2 separate regions of the Homo sapiens genome follow, and region 2 is linked to region 1. The links come from fine-mapping of genetic effects on gene expression. A gene starts in region 1. The other region holds a variant in brackets. All regions are shown on one strand. Distances are from middle to middle.

Evidence for each region.
Region 2: its variant is fine-mapped to the expression of S100A4 in whole blood (TOPMed, PIP above 0.99).

Annotation. Positions count from the first base shown.
Region 1 is chr1:153,541,686-153,550,628 of GRCh38, forward strand. S100A4 (S100 calcium binding protein A4) reads right to left here and starts at 4,121. Exons shown (of 3, transcript NM_002961.3): 1 at 4,068-4,121; 2 at 2,969-3,124; 3 at 1,936-2,238. The coding sequence starts at 3,109. The coding sequence ends at 2,074. It overlaps S100A3 (S100 calcium binding protein A3), which reads right to left and starts at 7,573. Exons shown (of 3, transcript NM_002960.2): 1 at 7,496-7,573; 2 at 6,660-6,805; 3 at 5,644-6,161. The coding sequence starts at 6,800. The coding sequence ends at 5,997. It overlaps LOC101928034 (a long non-coding RNA gene), which reads left to right and starts at 4,057. Exons shown (of 3, transcript NR_125947.1): 1 at 4,057-4,224; 2 at 6,736-7,430. It also overlaps a transcript of S100A5 not described here. RefSeq lists enhancers at 3,030-3,610, 3,611-4,191, 4,002-4,051, 4,202-4,391, 7,100-7,661 and 1 more and a silencer at 7,628-7,922.
Region 2 is chr1:153,562,770-153,571,712 of GRCh38, forward strand. S100A2 (S100 calcium binding protein A2) reads right to left here and starts at 3,075. Exons shown (of 3, transcript NM_005978.4): 1 at 2,737-3,075; 2 at 965-1,118. The coding sequence starts at 1,108. RefSeq lists enhancers at 1,432-2,189, 2,190-2,947, 3,067-3,126, 3,100-4,299, 3,997-4,236 and 1 more. The variant C/T (reference allele first, on the strand shown) is at 3,837.

The DNA.
Region 1 (8,943 bases):
AAAATCTGAAATCTGATGGAACAATAAGCCGAAGAAGGGAAACCAGGCTGTCCTGGAAAGAAAACCTCAGAAGTGTGGGACAAACACAGGGCACCATCTCCCCGTGTCCTAGGAAGCTCTCCACATCGGGCCCCTCCCACCCATCCTGCCACCCACTCCAGGAGTAGAGAAGACAGCCCTTGAGATGGGGATCAGTGGAGGAAGATATTTTCTGCGAAGGATATGGTCAAGGTCATGAGCTAATATGGGCCCAGAGGTTTTTAAAGGGCTTTTAAATGAACGATTTCTTCTAGGCCTCACTGCTCTTCACAGGAAAGGCTCGTCGGAGACTCTTGGCATGGAGGACTGAGAATCAGGAATAGGGAAGGTGTCCAGCGAAGGGCTAAGGCCCAGCACTGGGGTAGAGGTTGTGGATTGGGGAGGGGGGTTCAGGTTCAGGCTGCAGTCAAGGAGGAAGTAGGGGCCAGGGAGAGTTTCCTGTATCCCAGGAGACACTCAGACATCGTTCTACCACAGTAGAACAACATACTTCTACCACCAGTCCAAGAACAGACCTGGGCTCAGGGTGTAGTACCTATCACTGCTGCAGTCCCACCCCAGCCTGGGGGGCCTCCCCACTGCTCCCCACTCCACCCCACCCCCAGCTGGCAAGATTGGAGAGGCAGCAGGGATTGGTTGCTATGCAGTAGGCATCTCTGAAGGAGAGCGTGACCTGGGTGGAGGCCCCAGGGAGGGCGCTCCCAGGGAGGGTGGATGGAGAGGGCAGCGGAAGGCAGCAGACTTTCTCCTGAACTGAAATTCCTCCCAAGTCTCTGTATTCAAACCCTGCGGGAACATCTGAGTCACCTGCCCCACTCCTCTGAAACCTGAGAGAAAAGCCCCATGTGATGAGAGGAAAGAGGACCCTCAAGAGGAGGTCAGTGGGACAAAGCCCTCCAGCCTCTGCACCTGACCTCCATGCACCTCTTCCTAAAAGATCCCTGAGTCACCCAGACATGGCCTTGAAGTCTAACCTCAACCCACCACTGCACCCTGGAGCCACTGGCCTTGAACCTACCTAAGGGGAAGCAATATCATGCCTTATATTTTCTGGGGGGAAAATAATCTCAATTTCATTTGTCAGATCATATATGTGGAATTTTGTCTCCAAAACTATGGTCACCTTCCCACCATTTGCCTCACTCCCACTCCAGCCACTGACCCCCACTCATCTCTTCTGAGGTCCCCTGTCCTTCTCTGAAGGAGCTTGATTCCTGACTGATAACAGATCTCATCCAGGGACCTTTATGGCAGAGACGGTGGATTCGAGAATGCCTATATTCTCATGCTGCTGCAAACAGCGGGTCTCCCTCCACATTGCCCTCCCTGATCCTACCACGCACAGGAAAGGATTAATCCATCCCTGTGGTTTGAAGCCAATGATCTGGAAGTGGGTGGCAGGACAGGGCCTGGACTGTCAACGTCAGCACTGAGTGCCAGCCCTCCTCCCCATCCCACTCTCGCCTAAATACTTCCTCCCTGCAACTCAGCCTTATTCTTTTCCCTCCGACTTACTCCCAGGACACCCAAACTCCATTCCAGACCCCAACCAGGAACAGATATGACCTTCAATTCCAGCCTCGGTTCAAGATCCTGCCAGAGGCAAGGTTGGAGAGAGGTGGGAGGGGTAAGTGGGCTGGCTGAGATCCCACAGCTGGGACCTTCCAAACCTTGGCAGGGGGGTGGTGAGGGGTCCCCTTCTCGGCTTTGACCACACCGAGTGAACTCTATTGCCTGTGCACACACACTGTTAGTCACCCTGCATCCCTCCCCTAACTTCACTGGTCTGCTGTCCATAAAACTTCAGCTCAACTCCCAGCTCTCCCCACCACCACCCCACAACATATCCCTCAGTCCCCAACCCACGCCCCCAGAGTCTCTCAAACCATCAGCCTCAAAACTTCCAAGAATCTTTATTGAACTTGCTCAGCATCAAGCACGTGTCTGAAGGAGCCAGGGTGGAAAAAAAAAAGTGCCCACTGGCGACAGGGAGGGCCCCAGCTGGCAGACCCCCCAACCACATCAGAGGAGTTTTCATTTCTTCCTGGGCTGCTTATCTGGGAAGCCTTCAAAGAATTCGTTACACATCATGGCGATGCAGGACAGGAAGACACAGTACTCTTGGAAGTCCACCTCGTTGTCCCTGTTGCTGTCCAAGTTGCTCATCAGCTTCTGGAAAGCAGCTTCATCTGTCCTTTTCTGGAGGGAGAAGAGGCTACAGATAGAAAACAGAAGCCCAGTGGGTGGAGCCAGGACCAGACCCAGTTTCTACTCCCAGACCAGAGTTCAGGGAGGCTCCTTTGGGAGGTCCAGTTTGGAACTCCAACCCTCAAGGCTAAGCTAGGGTGGAGAAGGTGCTCCTTGGATAAGGAAGTCTGAGTACCTGGTGCAATGGAAAAATGACGGGACCACTACATTTTCACCCAAGGTTGTTCTAATAATCCCATGAGGTAGTAATAGTCATGAAAACAATATATAAACTGTGTTATGTTTGATACAAATATACATTGTTATTGTTTGAAGGGAACGTCTGCAGGCCTGTGATCATCTCCACATCTGTGTCTTCACATCTACAAGCCAAATAGAAACTCAAACAGTGTCCACTGTTGGAGTGATGGCAAGAGTCAGACAGTCCCGGTCCGGATGGCAGTTGTGTACACTGACCACCTTGGGAAGTTACTTAGCACTCTGAGCTTAGTCTTCCCTTCAGTTAAGTTGTGCAAAGCACCTGGCAGTGTCTGACCCATTCATTCTCAGCCCTCTTTCAGCATGGGGCCAGGCAGTGAGTGGTGGTGTTCAATGTGTTTCCACCCCAGGCAGCCACCCCACTGATAGATGCCCTCTGTAGCTAATGCTCTAGAGCAAGACTGCTGCCCTCCTCTGTGGGAAATGCCCCACGTGGGGACTCACTCAGGCACTACCCACTCACCCCCAAGAAGCTGGGCAGCTCCCGGGTCAGCAGCTCCTTTAGTTCTGACTTGTTGAGCTTGAACTTGTCACCCTCTTTGCCCGAGTACTTGTGGAAGGTGGACACCATCACATCCAGGGCCTTCTCCAGAGGGCACGCCATGACAGCAGTCAGGATCTGGGAGCAGGAGGCACAGAGACCGTCTTATTAATCCCACCCCTCAGAGATGTGTTCAGAATGCCAGGCTCCACTCCCATCCCTCCAGGAGCACTTGGCGAGACTCTGCTCCCTCCCTGGGGGAGCCCAGAGCAGTGGGCCCCCGCACCTGGCTGGGAGGGTGTGCACAGTGGGGAACACATGCTCTGGGCAGTGAACATTTGCAAGATCCGCTGCGCAAGCTCTGGAGATTCGGGCAGCAAACTCCCAGGGCCTCCCAGGCCTTGCCTCAACAACAGCATTTTTTCCACCCCTCACTCAGTCTATCCACTCCCACAGCTCAGCCACAAAGGCCCCGCCCTTGCCATTCTTTTCCCTCCCAGAACTGGGTGTGGCTGCTGGAGGCCTGCCCAGGGGCCTGCAGTGGAAAAAACCAGCACAGCCGCTTAGCTCTCAGCATGGGGAGGGGCAAAGTGAGGTGGCAGAGGCAAGGGTTGGAAGAGAAGCTGCAGAGGCCATGCACCTTCTCGAGCTGGGCTGCTGCGTGCAGGGCAGAGGCTCATGGGGCACACCACCAGACAAAGGCCCACAGTTGCCTTCTGCCTTTCCTTTGCTTCCTGCTCCCGAGTGCGCAACCCAGCAAACATGAGCCAGTGCAGATACCCACAGGCACATACATACCAACACGTACTATAGCAACAGCGTGTGCAAGCCCACATCTCAGAAGCACCTGGAGAGCTCAAATTCAGTCACTTGCTCACTTTTCTGTTTGTTTTTTCCTCCGTCTTACGTGCATGTGTGTGTGTGCCATGCACACCCACGCACACAATCCACCCAGAGTTCCACATCAGAATCTCACATCTGGATCTCTTTAGCACATCTGGCCCCCACCAGCCTCCCCTTCTCCTTCCCCAGCCCTGGCCTCTGACACCCCTTGCATGCCAGTCAGGCCAACACAACTCACCAAACCAAGAAAGAAGAAGCGCTGAGGAGAGAGGGTTGTAGAGAGGGGAAGAATGGGGACGGCCCAGAGGTCTGACCTATTTATACCCCAGCCAGGCCCTGCCCATAGCAGGGGACAGGGGAGAGCGGATACTGCCTTCCTGCTGTGGGCTGATGCGGTAAGTGCCACAGCACCCTCCACCAGCCCAGCCGTGGAACCAAGCCTCCTGTTCCCAGGTGGGCACCCGTGGGTAACGGGTAAGCCCTAGCGGTTACTAGCAGGGGACTGGATGAGATGGGCACCACCCAGTGTACATAGCTCAGCCTGAGTTTTAGAGAGGTGGAGGAAGGGGCAGCCTGTGCCTGGAGCATGGGGGACAGGGAGTAGTCCCATGGGGACCTAGGAAAGGAGATGCAGGGGGTGGTGGGTGACAGGTGGGAGATTGCCCTGGAAATGTGGTGACACAAAAGCTAGGGGGGAGATGGGAGGATCGCCTGAGGCCAGGAGTTCAAGACCAGCCTAGGCAACATAGAGAGACTTCTGTCTCTATAAAAAGGAAAAACAATTTTTTTTTTTAATTAGCTGGGCAGCATGGCTGTAGCCTGTAGTCCCAGCTAGTCAGGAAGCTGAGACAGGAGGATCATTTGAGCCCAGGAGTTCGAGACTGCAGTTGGCTATGCTCAAGCCACTGCTCTCCAGCCTGAGCAACACAGAGGACCTTGTCTCTTAAAAAAATAAAGATTCAGAAACAAAAACTGGGGTGGGGATCCCCATGCCCGGTACTGTCTGCCATGCCAAGTAAGGCTCAGGGTCGGGGCGGGGGGATCTGGAGGGGAACAGGCTCACACCCAAAGGAGGCTCTGGGACCACCTCAGGAACGTCAGTGGGAAAGGTCCTGGGTGAGGTAGTGATGGAGTGGAGTGGCAGTGAGGCGTGGGGGCTCACGGATAGATCTCAGGTTCGGAGAGGGTATCAGGAGGGGCCATTTAAAGTTGGGATGAGTGTCAGGAATGAAGAATCCAGGTTGGGGTGGAGAGTTAGAGGTGAAATGGCATGAAATAGGGGAGTTATAATTCGGGTCAACCTCTCAGGGTGGGCTACAAACCCAGTGAGGGTTAGAAGTAGGGGGTTAAGGCCCTCAGGGGGCTGCGGCTTCAGGGATAGGGGCTAGCTCAAGTTATTCCCTTACCCCTCCATACAGAGCACCCCTTCCTGGCTGGGAGAAACACCTCAGACACCCTAATCCCATTAGTGCTGCTCTCTGGGCTCCCACAGCCCGAGGCAGGGAACAAACACCCCCACTGCACCCACGGCCCCACCCTCCTCCAACCATGAGCACTGAGTCCCAGGGGAAACTCAGGCAGTCCTCTCTCAAAGATCCCAAAGAAAGAGAGAGAGGAAGGGAGGACAGGGGTCCTTGTTTTGTCCCCACGCCCTCCTGCTGGACCCTGGAGGCCACTGCATTTCTGCAGGGTCTGCAACTTCCCTCAGGGAGCACCCTGCCCCTGCCCTCAGCTGCCTTCCCGCAGTGGAAAAGGCCAGAGAGGAGCAAAGAGCTCAGGAGACGCGTCCTCAGAGAAGAACCAAACAAAACCAAGCTGATGCCAGTTTTTTATTAGGAGTTAAATAGGCCCTTTCCCATCGTGGTCTCATTGGTGCACGCTCTGCTGAGCCTCGAGGGCCTCAGAGCAGATCCCGCCTCCTCCCATCCACAAGGGAGGCCACAGGGGTGCGGCAGGCAGGCTGGGCCCCAGAGTGGCTCTACCCCTCATTCGCTGGGCATCCTGAGGAAGGAGCCCTCACATCTCTGGGCCTCCTAGGTAAAATGGGTTAACTGATCGCAGAAGACCTGGGCAAGTCCAGATTGAAAGGGGTACAGGAGAGAGGGTAGGAGGGGGTGTGGGAGACATGCCCAGCCCCCGACAGCCAGCGCACCCCCTGGAGCAGAGGCTACTGGGAGCAGGGGGGCTCTGAGGGGCAGTCCTTGAAGTACTCGTGGCAGTAGAGACAGAGGCAGGCAAGTGAGCGCACATACTCCACAAAGTCCACCTCGCAGTCCTTGTTGGTGTCCAGAACACTCATGAATTTGTTGTAGTCACATTCCCGAAACTCAGTCTGTGCAAGGGAAGGGTTGGGAGAGGTAAGGGAGTAGGATGAGGAGGGCAGAACAGCCTCACACGCCACCTCCCTCCTTCCTCTCCCAAGTGGACCCACCCCACCCCAAACTACACCCTTCTGAGGGCCGACTTCAACCTCCCTGCTCTGATAATGCACTCGTTGCAATCCCCTCCCAAATCTGTCCTCTCAGATTATTAATCGAGCACCTACTATTTGCTACTGAGTGCCTACCAAGTGTTAGGCATTCTTCATGGTGCTCTCACTCAGTCCTCTCAACAGCTCTGCAAGGCAGCAGGGATGATTGTCATCCCATTTTACAGATGAGGAAGCTGAGGTTTCTGCTGTGTCAGTTCTCCCCCTCCCACTCCCTCCTCACAATCCAGCCCCCTCCCTTGCTGTCCTGTGCTCATGCTTGTTGTCCCCAGGTCTCTCTTTGCAGAGTCTAGGCAGTGCCTCCCCCCGGAGGAGGAGGGGACGGACACTCTGACTGCTCACCGGGGTCCAGGTGGCCAGCTCCTTCTGCAGCAGCTCCTTGAGCTCCGCCTGGCAGAGCTTGTATTTGTCCCCACAGCGCCCTGCGTATTCCTGGAAGGTGCACACGATGGCAGCTACCGCCTGCTCCAGAGGCCTGGCCATCCTCACTGTCACAGAACAAGGGTGTGGCTCACAGCAGAGTTCCAGGCCAGCCCCCCAGCTCACCTCTGCCCTCTGTGTTTCTCAGAGACTGTTCCCAGACCCATCTTAACCTCCATCAGGCTTCAGGCCCCGCAGTCTCCCCCTCCTCTGAGTAGCCCTCCCAGACCACACCAGCCCCTCCTAATTTATCCCCCTGCTGTCCTGTTGTTATTTCCCCATGTAGAGGTCTCATTGCCCCAACATCGCTGTAAACTCCTCAGAGAGACAGCATCCTACCCCACCACCCACACACCCCACCGTGGGGCTCCTTAAGCACTCTCAGATTATCTGCCACCTCTTCTTATCCCCAACACCCAGGGATGGCTCGGTCCCAGTCTGCCCCAGCCCATGAGATGCCCTAGAAGCCTCCCTCCCTGCAGGAACTTGCACAAGGAGAGCCTGGCCCTGTGCTTCTCTGCCCTCAGCCCTTGGAGAAGCTAGGCCTTAGCAGGGAGGGGCAGGTCTGAGAGGCGCCCCCACAGCCTCACCACCACTGCCCTCACCCTGCCTCCTGCCCTGAACTCGAGGAAGCTGCACCCAGAAGAAAAACTTGTGGGATCCTCTCTGCCTGTCGCCAGCTGTGCAACCTTGGTGAGCCATTTGTCTCTCTGGGTCTCAGGGGCGGGGCCTGATCTGTAAGTTGGGGTTCATCTCACCTCGCTGGCCCAGTCAGGAACCTGAACCAGATGGTCTCTTGAGAGTTGACCAGTTCGGGTGTTTACCAATCTGAGACTGGCCTCCCCTGAGGTTACCCTCCCGACCCCTGGGGGTTTTGAGCAGGGAGGTTCTGTATAGGGATACTCTGTTCTATTGGAGGGGAAGCCCTTCCTGGAATTGCTCACCTCCCCCCACTTCCACTGTCCCCTTCCACCGCCCTTCTGGGATGATGCCTCCAGCCTGGGAAAACCCGAAGGCAGCCAGGAAGGCAAGAGTTTTTTCCATGCTAGCCCAGTGACTCACTCCTGATTCCCCCACGGGACAAGAGTCCTGCAGCACAGGGCGGCCAGGGCCAAGACTCTCCCTGAAGATTTGCCCACTGCTGGGCCCCCTGCTGGGAGCAAATGGCTGGCATGGTTGTGGCTGGCAGGAAAGTAGGGGAAGGGGAGTGGGGAGTGCCAAGCACTGCCAGGATTTAATTCATTGTAAACACCCCAGGATTAGAGCAAGGTGTCCAGGTTCCCAGGAGAGGAAAGGGCCATGATCCTCAGAAATGAGGAGACTCAGAGGTGAAGCAAGGAGGCAAGGAGCAGGTGAGGGGCCTGATCAAGGGGAAGACCAGAGCCTTGAGCCCAGTGCTCCCACCCCAAGGCAGACCTTAGCTCTACACACCTCCCTGCCCAAACTTCCCCAACAGCCCCTCACTGTGTAAGGAAACCTCTGCGTCCACTATATCTGACTTCCCTCCCCGTGTCAGGCCCGCCTGTGGTCATCTCTCTGCTTCCAATGCCAGACCCTGGGTCAGGAGTCAGGCTGGCTACTGGGGGTCCCCAAACTGCCCTGACACTCAACCCAGGGCAGGACCCAAGCAGCTGGCACTCACCACTGGTGCTGGCGTTTCAGCTGTAGGAGCTTAGAGACAGGGCGTCACTATTTGTAGCCTCCCAAGAAAGGAAGGAAGCAATTATGGGGGACACAAGTAGGTCAACACTGAGGATGCCCTCAGGGATCCCTCAGCAGACCCATTACAGGCCCCACCTGCCCACCTATCCACGCACACATCAAAGGCCAGTCTGGGCTCAGACACCACTCCCCTTTCATTCCCCATCTGCCCTCCCCCAGAGTTGGGAACAGGGGACAGTCTCCTGCCAAGTCCTTCCAGCTCAGTTGGAGGAGACAGTCTGGCTTATCCATCACATCACAGCCCCATCTCTTCACTCTGCAGAGGCCCCCAGAATACCAAGTGGGGACACACTTCTGCCTCGCTCAGGTTGCACCCCTACAAATCTCTATTCCGGGTAGAACTTGGAGAGCACGTGGCTAAGCCTCCCCTTTACAGACGAGAAGTCTGAACTTGCCTGACCAGATCCCAGCTTTTGGCTGTGAACTGCTTGCTTCCCAGGGGGGAAATCATCAGGTGGGATGTCTTTGAGGCACAGGAAGGAGG
Region 2 (8,943 bases), 21 kb after region 1:
TGCTTGAACCCAGGAGTTCAAGCCCAGCCTGGACAACATAGCAAGACTCCATCTCTACAAAAATAAAAATTGGCCAGGCATGGTGACAATACTCCTGTAGTTCCAACTACTTGGGAGGATTGCTTGAGCCCAGGAGTTCGAGATTACAGTGAGCTATGATCCAGCCTGGGTGACAGAGTGAGATCTTGTCCCCCCACCACAAAAAAAAAAAAAAAAAAAGGAGTCCGGGCACGGTGGCTCACGCCTGTAAGCCCAGCACTTTCAGAGGCCGAGGAGGGCAGATCACCTGAGGTCAGGAGTTCGAGACCAGCCTGACCAATATGATGAAACCCCGTCTCTACTAAAAATACAAAAATCACTTTGGGAAGCCGAGGCAGGTAGATCACGAGGTCAGGAGTTCGAGACCAGCCTGGCCAATATGGTGAAACCCTGTCTCTACTAAAAATACAAAAATTAGCTGGGCGTAGTGGGATGCGCCTGTAGTCCCAGCTACTCAGGAGGCTGAGACAGGAGAATTGCTTGACCCCTGGAGGCAGAGGTTGCAGTGAGCCGAGATCGTGCCATTGCACTCCAGCCTGGGCAACAAGAGGGAAACTCCATCTCAAAAAAAAAAAAAAGAAAAGAAAAGAGAGAGAGAGAACGTGCCAGTGCTGTGTGATCTTGGGACAATCACTTTTCCCTTCTGGGCTCTGGTTTCTCAAGTCTCCAATGACAGGATTAAACAGATGGACTCGGAAGGCCCTCACAGCACATGGTTCTCTGGAATGCTGCAGGAAACAGCCATTAATTAAGCACTCCCACTCGGGCCTCATTTCCACTCCAGTGGAGCCATGAAGCTAAAGTGGGGAGGGGGCTGGGCCCCACCCTGGCACCTGCATCGACAGGCACCCGGAACTGGGGGAGAGATTTAACCTGCACCCCCACACTCACACCAGGACCTCCCCCACAGGCCTGTGCCACTCACCCCCACAAAGCTGGGCAGCTCCTTGTGCAGAAGTTCCTTCATTTCCCCCTTACTCAGCTTGAACTTGTCGCCCTCTTGGCAGGAGTACTTGTGGAAGGTAGTGACCAGCACAGCCAGCGCCTGCTCCAGAGAACTGCACATCATGGATCTGTGGCTGCAGAGGTGCCAGGTGATGGGTACACTGCTGAGGCTCTTGGGGCCTTAGCTCAGCCTGTAGGATCCACTTCTGCCCTATGCCCCCAAGCCACCTCACAAAACCCCTCTCTGAATGGGAAGGCAGGGGCTGCATCTCCCCCTCAGACTGTGGTTCCCTGAGGCCGGAGGCGATACCTCCATCTCACCCTGAGGGCAGACGCTAAAGCTTCCCTTGTGTCTGGGAGTCACCAAGCCTCCTCTGATGGCACTTGGGACACCCCCCTGAGGGCAGGGCTCCCCATTTTAGTGTCTGCCAGAAGGGAAATGACAGGGTGACCAGAGTCCCATTTTGATGGCATCTGCGCAGGCTCTGGGGAGCAGGGCCACATGCACCGGCTGGCAGATGGGGGCTCCTGTGCAGTCTGGCAGGAGCCATGGCTACAGCCTAGGAGCAGGAAGCTCCCTGAAGGAGTCGTTTCCCTCCTTAGACTCGGGACTCCTGAAGCCAGAGGCATCTCTCTCTGCCATCTAACTGGAAGCTCCCTTGGGCAGGAGTGTTTCCTCTCTCAGACTAGGAGCTCCCAGAGGGTGGGGAATGTGTCTCCCCTCACCCTGAAGGCCCCTGAGCCTCTAGGCAGACAGGGGCATGGATAGGGTGGGGGCAACTTAACATTCTCTCCACCAGGAAGGATCCTGTTGGAATTAGAATTAAAGATATGAAATGTTCATTGCCTTGGGATCAGGATGGGACAGACCTCAGCGGCAAGGCCTCTGAGAATACTCAGACCAGCCTGGAAAGGTTAGGCAGGTTTCAGGGTGAGGCCAGAGGAGCTATGCCAGAGGCAGGGCATGCCCTGGGCCCATCATGCCAGCCCTGCCTTCACCGAGGCAGGGGGCAGAGCTTTGCTGCTTGGGGCCATGACCCAGGCAGAGTCTTGAGACCCCTGCCTCTTGCACCTTAGTCCTGCTAGAATCCAGGACTTTGCAAAAAAAAAAAAAAATCTCAGGATTCTTTTTGCAGCAACGCCCACATGCACACCTCCTGCTCCTAGGCCTAGACCCCCAAAGAAGGGCCCCTAGACTGAGATATCCAGGGGAGGGCCTCAGAGCAACCCCTGCACTGAGACCTCACAGAGGAACCTGGAGAAAAACCCTTCAGTCGGCCGGGCGCGGTGGCTTACTCCTGTAATCCCAGCACTTTGGGAGGCCGAGATGGGTGGATCACGAGATCAGGAGATCGAGACCATCCTGGCTAACATGGTGAAACCCCATCTCTACTAAAAATACAAAAAAATTAGCCGGGCATGGTGGTGGGCGCCTGCAGTCCCAGCTACTCGGGAGGCTGAGGCAGGAGAATGGCGTGAACCTGGGAGGGGGAGTTTGCAGTGAGCTGAGATCACACCACTGTACTCCAGCCTGGGCGACAGAGCGAGACTCCATCTCAAAAAAAAAAAAAAAAAAAAAAAACCCTTCAGTCAACACTTCAGCACTTCACAGAGAGTTCTTCCAAGGGGGAAGGCCCAGAGAGGCCCAGGTTGATCCCACCAGGGAAGCTGGAATGAGAGAACTGTGGAGACAAAGACAGAGACCCACGGGGATCCTCCCCACCCTGCCCTCAGCAGGACAGAGGTACTCACCAGACCAGGTGGCAGAGACAGACCCAGGAAGGAGAGCAAGGCAGCCAGGCTCCCAGGGTGAGGATTTATATGTGGGCCCCACTGGCCCCCAACTTGGCATTTTAAGGAAACCAAACCTGCCTCAACCTGATCCCACCAAACCCTGGCCTCTTGCCATTCCCACTCATTCCCTCCCAGCCCCCTCCCTCCCAGAGAGTGCCAGCTCCACCACCAGCTGGGGGAGGGCTCTAGGCCAGGTCAAGGGCAGCCCCTGAGCCCACCCAGGCCACAGTGGGAAGTGGGAGGTGTCGTGGGGACTGGGCATCCTGGACCGGGGTGAGGGGAGGCAACCCCTGCTCTGGGGCCTGGAGACTGGTGCCAGGCCTCATTCTCATGACATGCCTGTGAGTCACAGCCCACTCCTGTGTGAGAGGCTGTGAGCACACGCTGAGACTTCATGGTCCAGTGCTCGTGTACATACATGCGCCCGTGTGTGTGAGAGAGAAGCAACCTGGGGCCACCCTTAGGAAGCTGGGGGCCAGAGGAGGCAGCTGGGGGACATCAGGAGGAGAAGGACAGGACTGACTTCAGGGCATGGATGAAGTGGAGTGACTTTTAATGGCCAGCACCAGAATACCTCTTAATGAGGTAATGAGGTAACTAAGTGTGCTTAGAAATACCTGGGAAGGTCCCTCTGTGTAGGAAGGTGTCTGGAAGGATGGGGAAGCAGTGAGAAATGGGGTTGCTCTACACACAGCCGCAGTTGGGCTGGGCCACAGTCTGTGGGGAGCATAAGGAAGTCCCGAGTAGTTAAAGGCTGAACAGGAAAACTTTGGCCTCCTCTTCTCCAGCTTGAGGGCTGGGTGGGTGGGTAGGGGTACATCCCTACCCAAGGCTGAAAACACCAGCTGGACAGCTTCCCAAGCCAGAATCCAGGCCTGAAGCACAGCCCTCAGCCACAGCCCTCTCTCACTGCCCCCCACACACATGTCCTCCCCAGACCCGGAGAAAGGCAAACACTGTGGCCATTCAGAGCCCAGCCCAAGGGAGGGCTGCCCCCTCCCAGGGCCCCTTCCTCCTTGGCCCTTTGTCTATCCCGGCCCGTCTGGGCATCAGGGCAC[C/T]GCCCTTCCTGTGGCCCCAGCTCCCCTCCCTGCTCCAGCTGTCGAGTAGCTTCTTCCCCTCCCCCAGCCCCTCTACCTCAGCCCTAAGTGACTCACCCGAGGTTCCAGGCCCAGATGCCCAGGCAGTGACTCAGCGGCACACCCTCCTCCCCCAGGGCCAGGGCAGCAGCAGTCCCAGAGCAGTAGGTGGAAGCCCCAGCCCAGCCTGGCAGGGAAAGCACTGGCACAGAGACCCCAAACAGGCCCTGCCAGGAGGAGCTTTGGATAATGACATGGCAGGAGGATCAGACTGAGAACAGGCTGGTCCCTTCCTAGCGGTCACCGTGTGACTTGGGGGCCAGCCTGAGCAGTGTACATGAAGTCAGGCCTTGGGGCCCCCAGTGTCCTCTTCTACACCTTGGCACAGCCACCGAGTGTCCCTTGCTCCCCTCAGTACTTGAACCCCTCATGCTACTTGTCTTCCCATCGAGGCCTACTTCAAGTAGAACTCGGAATAAAAACCCTTCACACTGAGGGTGAGGGACAAGGGAGCGCAATGCATCGATTTTCACAGCCATTCTTTCCTTTTAACTAAGGGCCTCCACAGGGCCTTCCCTGCTCAGAAACTGCAGTGCATCCCCATGGCTGTCCCTTAAAGCCAGGCGGTATGTTCTCACTCATAAGTGGGAGTTGAACAATGAGAACATATGGACACAGGGAAGGGAACACCACATACCAGGGCCTGTGGGCAGTTGCGGGGAGAAGGATGGGGGCAAGGGGAGGGAGAGCATTAGGACTAATACCTGATGCATGCGGGGCTTAAAACCTAGATGATGGGTTGATAGGTGCAGCAAACCACCATGGCACATGTATACCTATGTAACAAACCACATTCTGCACATGTATGCCAGAACTTAAAGTAAAAATAAAATAAAATTAAATTAAAATTAAAAATTTTTAAAAAGCCTGGCAGTGAGGCGCTCCAGACTCGGCCTGCTGCTGCGTGTCCCTTAAACACACCGGCACATGCAACTAGTGTGGCCAAGACCCTCGGCTTGCGCTGACCCCTCTGTTCAGAACGTGCCCACACATGCCCATGCCCTCTATCCTGCTGAAATCCAACCCCCCCTTCAAAGGCCACTGCAGGGAGCCTTCCCAGGGCCCAACCGGATTCAGTGTCTACCTGTTCTGTCCTGTACAAAGCGCCCCTTTTGCCCTTTTCGTGTGTACTTAGAGAATTCTGATTTTGACTGAATCACCTGTGTACTTGTTTTCTCTCAGCCTCACCCCCACATGGTGAGCTCACCGGTCTTACTCATTTCTGCATGAGGTAAGGGTCTCGCCCACACCAGGTGCCAACCAGTGCTTACGGCTACCACATGGCAACAGGGGTCACTGGAGGAGTGCTTAGGAGCAAGGGAGTCCTTCTCACCCCGTGAAATCACACCACTGACTATGCTACGAAATAATCACCTCTCCTCTGGATCCCAAGAGTGGAACCGAGACAACGGGTCGGAAAAGAGCTTCAGAGAGCTACAAATCCCTGAGGAGTGACAGCAGGAAACTGCGGCTCCCAGGACCCAGTGAGGGAGTTGAGCAAACCCCCCAGCGGGCAGAGACGGAGACAGGCAGGCAGACGAAGAAGACAAAGAGTCAGTCAGATGGAAAAGCCAGGGAGAAAAACAGAGACAGCAGCAGAGCCGCGGGTCACTAGGGTCAGCTCCTGAAGGCCTGTCCTTAATCAGGTGTCTCTGTCTCAGGAACTGAGGCTGCGACTGCGCCCATCAAATGGCCATATACCTGAGACTGGTGATAATCGTATTCATTTGCCACTAACTTGCTGCGTAACCTTGGGCAACTCCCTCCCCCACGGCAGGGCAGGAGAGTTGTACGGAATGGCCCCTAGAGTCCGATCCCAATCCCACTCTCACATTCTCCAGCTGTCTACAAAGGCAGAGTAGTCAAGACACAAGCAGGCCCTGCGGACATCCAAAGCAGTGACTCTGCCCCGGCCCAGCCTCAGGAAGCTGGGTCCTCACATTCCGTCCACCCCATCTCCGGGCTCCAGGTGCCAGAAATTTTCCACCAGCGGCCCCGCGGGATTTTGCCCAGCTGCTTCGTGCCCTCTGGTGGCTAAGGCGTGTCATTGCAGTGCCGGCCTCCTGTCATCCTCCCTTTCTTGTCCGCCAGACCCTCTGGCGCCCTGCTTACGACTCAAACAGGAGACAGTGCTGATTCATTTCCAAGCGGCCTTCCTACACCCACACCTGCTTCACATAGATGAGGTTTCCCGGACAGTCCCTGCCCAGAAGCCCAGGTGGATGTCTGAGACGGCAGCCAGATACCTGGAAGCCATTTTAAAAGCCTAGGGATATGGGTACTCGGGAGATAGGAGGCGGAAAGACCACTTGAGCCTAGGAGTTTGAGGCTGCAGTGAGCCATGATCGTGCCACTGCACTCCAGCCTGGACGACAGAGCAAGACCCTGTCTCAATCAATCAATCAATGCAAGCCTAGAGATAAGGGCAGGAGAAAACCAGGGGACAGAAGTGAGGGATTGGCCACTGCCAAGTTCTGCCCACCCACCCCCTTTCCCCAGGCCGTTCAGGGGAAAGAGAAATGGCCTCATTGTGGGGGCCACAGGTTTAGTTTAAGTCCTGACATTGCCTCTGGCTTACTGTGTGACTGTCGACCTTGGTTGAGTGGTGCCACGAACCTGAGCTTAAACGTTTTCAGCAGAAGGACCCCCTTTATTATGCCCCGCCCCACAAAATAAGTTCTGAGGTATTCTGTCTTAGCAAAATGCATTAAATAATTTATTTCCCCTGTTGTACTAATTGGATCCATAAGTGTCTCCCGGCAGCATGACCAGCATGCGAGGACCCACGTTATCACATTGGGTTCAGGTCATCCTGGATTTGTCACTCACAATGGGCGTGTGCATATCCTTTGCTGGGGGGTGCAGACTGAAATTTTGAAGCACTCGCTGTGCGTCAGGTGCTCTCCGTACATTACCCCATTTAATTCACACAACAATCCCAGGAGTTGGAATAAGATGACCCCACTTCACAGAGGAGAACACTGAGACTCAAAGTCTGCCAAATTCACACAATTAGTAAGGGGTGGGGAGGCATGACGAACACAGGTGGTCACAACGTTAAACCTTTCCTAGAAGCTCCAATTATTCCCCGATAACCCTGAGAGCCCTAACATTTCATTTCCATTCAGACCAGCCTCAGTCTCTCTGCCCATCCTCTCTCCACCCCACACTCAGCCTATCTGTCTCATTTCTCAACCTCAGCAGGCGCCAGAAGCCCATCTTCTCCCCATCTCTGATTCTGGCATCTTTTCCTCTTGCCTTCAAATGCCCTGTGGACTGGATTCTTTTTAATTTTTGTTTACTTACTTATTTGAGACATAGACTCACTGTCGCCAAGGCTGGAGTACAGTGGCACCATCACAGCTCACTGCAGCCTCATGTGATCCTCCCACATTAACCTCCTCAGTAACTGGGGCTATAGGTGTGCGCCACTGTGCGCATCTTTTTGCATCTTTTGTGGTGATGGAGTTTTGCCATCTTGCCCAGACGGGTCTTGAACTCTTGAGCTCAAGCAATCCTCCTGCCTCGGCCTCCCAAAGTGCTGGGATACCAACGTGAGCCACCATGCCCAGCCTAGCCCGGATTAAATATAAATATAAAAGAGACTGGGCATGGTGGCTCACACCTGTAATCCCAGCATTTTGGGAGGCTGAGGCAGGCAGATCACCTGAAGCCAAGAGTTCAAGACCAGCCTGCCTAACATGGCAAAACCCCATCTCTACTAAAAATACAAAAATTAGTTGCGTGTGGTGGCGTGCACCTGTAATCCCACCTACTCAGGAGGCTGAAGCACGAGAATCGCTTGAACCCGGGAGGTGGAGGTTGCAGTGAGCTGAGTGACAGAGTGAGACCCTGTCTCAAAAAAATAATAATACAATCAAATAAGCTTAAAAGAACCATTTCTCATTGTCCCACCTCCTCTTGGCTTCCCCTTTGCCACACATAACAACACCATCCACCCAATCACCCAAACCAGAAATGTGGCTGTCCTCCTGTCCTCTAGCCTCCTGCTTCCCCCGCTCTGCCCTCCAGATGTTGGCCAGTCAACCTATTGTTTCCACCTTCTAAATACCACCCAGCTTTGTCCACACTGCCTTAGGTCCCTCAGCATCATCTTGCTCCTGGACTACTGCAAACACATCCCAACTCCCCTCCCACCTCCATCCTCGCCCCCCAACTCTAACCCCTTCTCAGCTCTCCCACCAGAATAACCTTTCTAAAATTCAAATCTGAGCATGTCAGCCCAGATTCAAATGCTTAGTGAACCCCCATAACTTTCAGAAGAGATGGCATGCCTTTGCTGGCACAGCAACTACACTGATGTGCATGCCGCGCCCTTCTGTGCTTCCAAGCACCTGCCTATGCCTCACATTCTCTTGAAAAGCCTTTCCTCAGGAGGTCCACCTGTCAATCCTAATCACCCTTTAAACTCAGCTCAAAGGTCATTGCCTCCATGCAGCATCCCGGTATCTACTTCCCAGCCTCGCACCTGCTAGAGCAGAAGAATATGCACACACACATGCACACACACAGCTAGTGTTCCTCCTGCAGCCCCTTGCCCATCGCTCTATCCCTTTTTTTCTTTTTTCTTTTTTTTTTTTTTTTTTTTTTTTTTTGAGACAGAGTCTTGCTCTGTCACCCAGGCTGGAGTGCAGTGTCGTGATCTCGGCTCACTGCAACCTCCGCCTCCCGGGTTCAAGTGATTCTCCTGCCTCAGCCTCCCGAGTAGCTAGGATTACAGGCAGGCACCACCACGCCCAGCTAATTTTGTATTTTTAGTAGAGGTGGGGTTTCTCCATGTTGGTCAGGCTGGTCTCGAACTCCCGAACCTCAGGTGATCCGCCCACCTCGGCCTCCCAAAGTCCTGGGATTACAGGCGTGAGCCACCACACCCAGCCCCCATTATTTCTTATGTTTAATTGTGACTATATATGTGTCCCTCCCACTAGACTGGGCTCCTAAGAAACAGGCACTGAGTATTGTCAATGCTCCATATCCCCAGTGCCTGACACAGAGGCACAAGTGCTGT